2 separate regions of the Homo sapiens genome follow, and region 2 is reported to be linked to region 1. Evidence: microRNA targets listed by miRTarBase, many of them from high-throughput screens and not tested one by one. Region 1 holds a microRNA gene; the other region holds the end of a gene's coding sequence.
Evidence for each region. Region 1 holds the annotated microRNA hsa-miR-6885-5p (AGGGGGGCACUGCGCAAGCAAAGCC, at 963-987, opposite strand). A microRNA usually pairs through its seed, bases 2 to 8, with sites in the 3' UTR of a target mRNA and lowers its output. Matches are read on the target gene's strand: a 7mer-m8 pairs with bases 2 to 8, a 7mer-A1 pairs with bases 2 to 7 and ends in A, and an 8mer does both.

Region 2: the mRNA of SCAMP3 is a reported target of hsa-miR-6885-5p. Seed matches in the 3' UTR shown: 7mer-A1 at 2,557-2,563.

What each region holds. Positions count from the first base shown.
Region 1 is chr19:6,388,712-6,391,711 of GRCh38, forward strand. MIR6885 (microRNA 6885) reads right to left here and starts at 992; the gene lies at 927-992. GTF2F1 (general transcription factor IIF subunit 1) reads right to left here. Exons shown (of 13, transcript NM_002096.3): 4 at 733-926.
Region 2 is chr1:155,253,534-155,256,533 of GRCh38, forward strand. It overlaps SCAMP3 (secretory carrier membrane protein 3), which reads right to left. Exons shown (of 9, transcript NM_005698.4): 9 at 2,448-2,886. The coding sequence ends at 2,740. ENTREP3 (endosomal transmembrane epsin interactor 3) reads right to left here and starts at 1,950. Exons shown (of 12, transcript NM_006589.3): 1 at 1,120-1,950; 2 at 867-923; 3 at 551-661; 4 at 326-445; 5 at 92-199. The coding sequence starts at 1,344.

The sequences.
Region 1 (3,000 bases):
CCAAGGTAGGAGGATCACTTGACCCCAGGAGTTCAAGACCAGCTTGAGCAACGCAGCAAGACCCCATCTCTACCAAAAATACAAAAATTAGCCAGGCATGGTGGGGCGTGCCTATAGTCCCAGCTACTCAGGATGCTGAGGTGGGAAGATCTCGAGCCCAGGAGTTGGAGCCTGCAGTGAGCTACGATCGCACCACTGCACTCCAGCCTGGGCAACGGAGTGAGACCCTGTCTCAAAATAAATAAGTAGGCTGGGCACGGTGGCTCACGCCTGTAATCCCAGCACTACGGGAGGCCGAGGCGGGAGGATCGCCAAGTTCGAGACCAGCCTGACCAATATGGTGAAACCCTGTCTCTACTAAAAATACAAAAATTAGCTGGGCGTGGTGGTGGCAGGCACCTGTAATCCCAGCTACTCAGGAGGCTCAGGCAGGAGAATAACTTGAACCTGGGAGGTGTGGGTTGCAGTGAGCCAAGATCGTGCTACTGCACTCCAGCCTGGGCGACAGAGCAAGACTCTGTCTCAAAAAAATACAAGTAAGTAAAATAAGATAACATAAATAAATAAATAAATAAATAAATAATAAAATCCTACAGGGATGGAAGTGCCAGCACTTCCACTGCAGCAGTGGGAATCTGAGGTTCAGAGAGGGTACCCCACAAAGTATGTAAGTTGAGGCCTGGGGATGTGGACTGGTCACTAAGCCGGCACCGCCACCGCCCCACCACTTACTTCCTGCCTGATTTGCCGTTGACCCGGAGCAGCCAGGGCTGGTCCTCGGGCCGGAACTCCTTGAGGACGATGCCGTACTTCTTCCTCCGAGCCTCCTCCCGAAGCTTGCGGTTGAACTCACTGCCCGCGCCCGATTCGGGCATCTCCTCCTCTTGGTAGATTTTCTTGTTGCTCAAGTCCCGCTCCAGCCGAGCCTAGGGGAGCAGGAAGCAAAGCCTCTCAGGGTCCCTGGCTTTGCTTGCGCAGTGCCCCCCTCCAGGAACGCCCTTCCTTGCCCTAGGCCAAGCTCTAGATTCTCAAAACCAACTTACCACTTGGCAACAAGGGAGGAGAACGGTAGCCTTTGACAAATCTGGGTAAAGGGAATTTGGGCGAGCCTTGCGCTCTATTTTTGCAACTTAAAAGCTTGAAATTATTTCCAAATTAAAATTAAAGAGAAAAAGACCACCTGGTGACCATCAAGCAGGCCATCGGAGGCAAAATTCCTTATCTGAGGAATGTAGAAGTAATTAATTAGACTTCCCTATTATCTACAGCAGGCATCTGGTTCCAGGATTCTTTTCAAAAAATGTCTAAGTACCTAGAATTTCCACACATCTCTCCAGAATGCATGCATATCGAAACTCATTGTGCTGTGGCTCACACCTGTAATCCCAGAACTTTGGGAGGCCAAGGCAGAAGGATCACTTGAGCTCAGGAGTTTAAGACCAGCCTGGCATCAGAATGGCTTGAACCTGGGAGGCGGAGGTTGCAGTGAGCCGAGATCATGCCACTGCACTCCAGCCTGGGTGATAGAGTGACACTCTGTCTTAAGAAAAAAAAGGCCAGGCGCGGTGGCTCACGCCTGTAATCCCAGCACTTCGGGAGGCCAAGGCAGGTGGATCACGAGGTCAGGAGATTGAGACCATCCTGGCTAACACGGTGAAACCCCGTCTCTACTAAAAATACAAAAAATAAGCCGGGCATGATGGCAGGCGCCTATAATCCCAGCTACTTGGGAGGCTGAGGCAGGAGAATGGCGTGAACCCGGGAGGCGGAGCTTGCAGTGAGCCGAGATCCTGGCGCTGCACTCCAGTCTGGGCGACAAAGCAAGACTCAGTCCCCAAAAAAAAAAAAAAAAAAAAAAAAGACCAGCCTGGGCAACATAGTGAGATCCTATATCTATTTCCTAAAAATAAAAAGGCTGGGCATGGTGGAAGGCTGAGGCGGGTGGATCACTTGAGGTCAGGAGTTCAAGACCAGCCTGACCAACATGGCGAAACTTCGTCTCTACTAAAAATACAAAAATTAGCTAGGCGTGGTGGTGGGCGCCTGTAATCCCAGCTACTTGGGAGGCTGAGGCAGGAGAATGGCTTGAACCTGGGAGGTGGAGGTTGCAGTGAGCCCAGGTCGCGCCACTGCACTCCAGCCTGGATGACAAGAGACTCCATCACAAAAAAATAAAATAAAATAAATAAAAAGAAACTCATTGTGCAACACTTGCTGACATTAAGGCACCAAAATCTCTACAAATTAACAATTTATCGTGACCTACATGGCTAATGTGATCCGAATTACCCTTAAGCTCTTGATTTAAGGTCCATATATACCATTTCCAAAACACTCTAGAATCAGCCACATCTCATAACCTCCACTGCCTCCAGTGCCCTGCCAGGACTCACCTAGACCAGTCCAGTTGCTTCTACCTTGGTCTCCGTTTATTTGCCCTCAAACCCACAGTTTGTCTCCCCATAGCAGCCAGATCACACACACTACAACTTCCCAATTGAAGATGCTTTAATGGCTCCCAAAGTCCTTTCTAGAGCCTCTGATGGCAGGGGCTCTGGGAAAGCCCCCAGCCCAGTCCCCTCCCTTGCCCAGATAAACCATGGCCAAAAATGTCCAACAGTGGGCACAGCTTCTAAATGTTCTCCTTTAAGGAGAGGCCTCTGGTGGGCCTACCAAACCTAACTTACAGGGACACCCAGGAGCTAGGCCTGGGCCTTTGCCATTTCCGTTTTTTTTTTTTTTTTTTTTTTTTTTTTTTTGAGGCAGGGTCTTGCTCTGTTATCCAGGCTGGAGTGCAGTCGTACAATCATAGCTCACTGCAGCCTTGAACCCCTGGGCTCAAGCGATCCTCCTACCTCAGCCTCCTATGTAGGACTACAGACCCACGCTATCAGCCCCAACTAACTTTTTAATTTTTTTGTAGAGTTGGGGTCTTGCTATTGTATTGCCCAGGCTGGTCTCAAACTCCTGGCCTTAAGCAAGCTTCCTGCCTCAGCCTCC
Region 2 (3,000 bases), not on the chromosome of region 1:
ATCTGTAGCCATTGTTCCCTCAGGCAAGTCTCAGCACACACACCCCTGCCCCCACCATACCTGCGTGCCCTGGCCCCTGCTCCCTTCTCACCGTATGCACGAGGTCCAGGGAGAAGATTTGGATGCAGCAGACAATAGCAGAGAGTGTACAGATTATAGCGGCACAAATGGTGAGCCCACAGACGCTGAAGAGCAGGTTCTGGGGAAGGGAAAGGAGGAGAGGAGTCAGGAGACGGCTAAGTTCCACACATTATGGGCCTGTGAGTACCCCAGCAGGGGAGGCAAGAGTGAGAACCAGGAGGATGTTTGCAGGGTGCAAGCTCACCTTGAGGGCCCCTCGGGCTTCATCACAGGTGGAGTTAGGGGCAACTTTCAGTTCCTGCCCCGACTCTGGACAGGGCCGGAGGAGGGGAACAGAGGGACAGCACACACAGACCTTTCCTTCCTGAGTGGAGCAGGGAGGGTGAGGCAGCCTGAGTCAGGACAAACTGAGGTGTCCTGCACACCTCCCCCAGCCAGTTCTTTCCAGCTCTCCCTCCTCAAATCTCACCAGAGAGCACTGTTGGAAGTCTCGGGCCAGTTGAGCATTCTTACAGGAGAGAACAGAGCCAGCCATGCTAAGCATGACACAGAGCACCGAAAGCAAGGAGAAGAAGGAGATCTGGGGAAAACAGGGTGCAGACTCAGGGCTGGGACCCTCATGAGTACTCCTCTGCCACGGACAGAGTCCCCCTCCTTCACAGACACTTCGTGCCCACCCGGCTGGCACCAACTGGGGAGCCAGTTCCCTTCTTGAGGACATAAATGGGCTTCCCCTTGCGTGCTGGGCACCTGCCTCCCAGTGGGCACTGGACCCTGGCACCTACCACTAGAGTGAATGGCCGCTTCCAGGACACAATGCCAACCACCCCGGAGAACGCCAGCTGGGGACAGAGTGGGCACAGGCTCAGCCTGGCAGGGGAGGCTCCTGAGTGAGCCCCTCACCACAGGATGCACCCAGCCCTGTAAGGAGGCAGAGGACCAGGAGAGGGAGGAGAGGCAAGCATGTGGACTTGCAGCTGGTGTGGAGGGTGGGGCCCGAGGAGCCTCCCCCACCCAACAACTGTGCACCCAACTCACCGAGAACCCAGCCCAAGACGGGCAGGACCTCTTGATGCTCTCGGTGGTGGTGACGGAAGAGGCCACCATGCTGAAGGTGACCACCAGGATGCCCAGGAGCACTTGGACCAGCCCCAGCGTAAGCAGGGCCTGCAGCCAGGGTCGGTGGAGGCGGAGGTGGGTAAGGCCCCTGGTGCTGGGCCGGCTGGTCAGCGAGCGGCTGGAGTCACTAGGCGAGGGCATCATGCCTGCTGCCCGGTTGCCTGCGCCTCGCTCGGCCCTCCCTGGCACTTGGGAGCATCTCAGAGGCGCCCAAGGCCCCGTCCTTTCTCCTCTCCACCCCACTCGCTCTAGAGCCCACCCCCTGGCTGGGTCCCCTGGGGCATGGCCGAGGGACGCCAGCTGTGGGGGGGGCCAAGCGAGGGGCGTCACGGAGGGACCGCGGAGTGCTCCCTCCCCACCACGGGCACTGGACGGGCACCGTGCCCGGGGCGACGATGAGGACGCGGGGGCACCGGCTCATCGCATCTCCCTAGGGAAGAGGGGCACCGAGAAGGGCCGGTCCAGGAGTGAGGAGGGGGCGGCGGCCTGGAGCCCAGGGAGGGGTGGGGAGGGTAAAAGCGGGAAGGATGGAAATAAGTCTAGAGAAGAGGGGAGGGGTCGGCGTGGGGTGACTCTAGAGGCGCGGTCGGTGTGCCCTCAGGGCGTCCAGTAGGATCCGGGGCCGCCTGGTGGGGAGAGGCCGCGGCGCCGCTGTCTCCTGTGTCGCCTGTCCCGCTCCCCTCCCCACCACGCTCCGCTCCCCGAGCTCCGGCTGCCGCAGGTCGGGGACTAGAGAAGGGGGATGGGAATGGGGATGGTGCGGGAAGGAGGGGCATGGCGGCGAGGGCCGGCGCGGTGCACCCCGGGAGTTGTAGTTCGGGACTGAGACCCTGTCGGGGTTGGGGGATCCCGCGGCAGGGCGAGGCAGTCGGATAAGCGCTCCTCCAGTCCCTGCCTCGCTCTGGACCCTGGCTAGGCTGCTAGTGATCCTTTGGGCCTCCACTTGAGCCCCATCCAGCTTTTCAGGCTCCAGGCCCGCGTATTCCTTGGCGTTCCCGGCAGAGGCGGTGGCTCTTCCCCGTCATTAATGGAGAGGGGTGGGGAGCAGGGCTCCCTGGCGTCTCCGGGTTTCGCGTTTCCGTGGACTTCCCACCTCCTTCCTGCGCCAGCCACTCGGGCTCCACCGCCCCGCCCCTCATATCTCCCAGTTTACACTAAAGCCGGGTCCGACCTTCCCACCTCACTCCACACTCTCCTTTCTCTTTCATAAGGCCTAATTCCCAATGAAGATTCAGGAAACGGGGATGTCAGTTCCAGTTCCACTTTCTTTTTATTTAAATAACCGAAGCAACAGCCGTGGCACAGCAGAGGGAAGCTGGGTTGGGGCGTGTGAGAGGTGGCAGCAGTGTGGCCTGATGGGGGGACTAGGTCACAGTGAACTCCCCACACGCCTGTCAGGTTCAGCAGTCATGGCCATAGGATTGGGAGCACTACGGAGGAGCCATCAGTTAGTGATGTCTCTCCAAGTCCCAGAGACCTTAGGGACGGGAGCTAAGTCAGCTCCCTCAAGTAGCAGGGCCAGGGCATCCCAGTCAGGGGTCACGGGGCCCGGAAGGCATTTTCAGCAGCCCCAGCGGCTGCATTGGCAGCTGCGGTTCGCACCGCAGGGTTGGAGAAGACACCAGCAGCAAATTCTTGCTGGGCCTTCTGAAAGCTGGCACCTGTGCGGCGGTATAAGGAGTGGATCTGCAAGTAGAGGACAAAGACATTACCGCCCATTCCAGCCACTGGTTCCCCACCCCAGCCTAACAGCATCACTACCACTCAGCAGCCTGCTGCCCAGCACACACACTCACACAC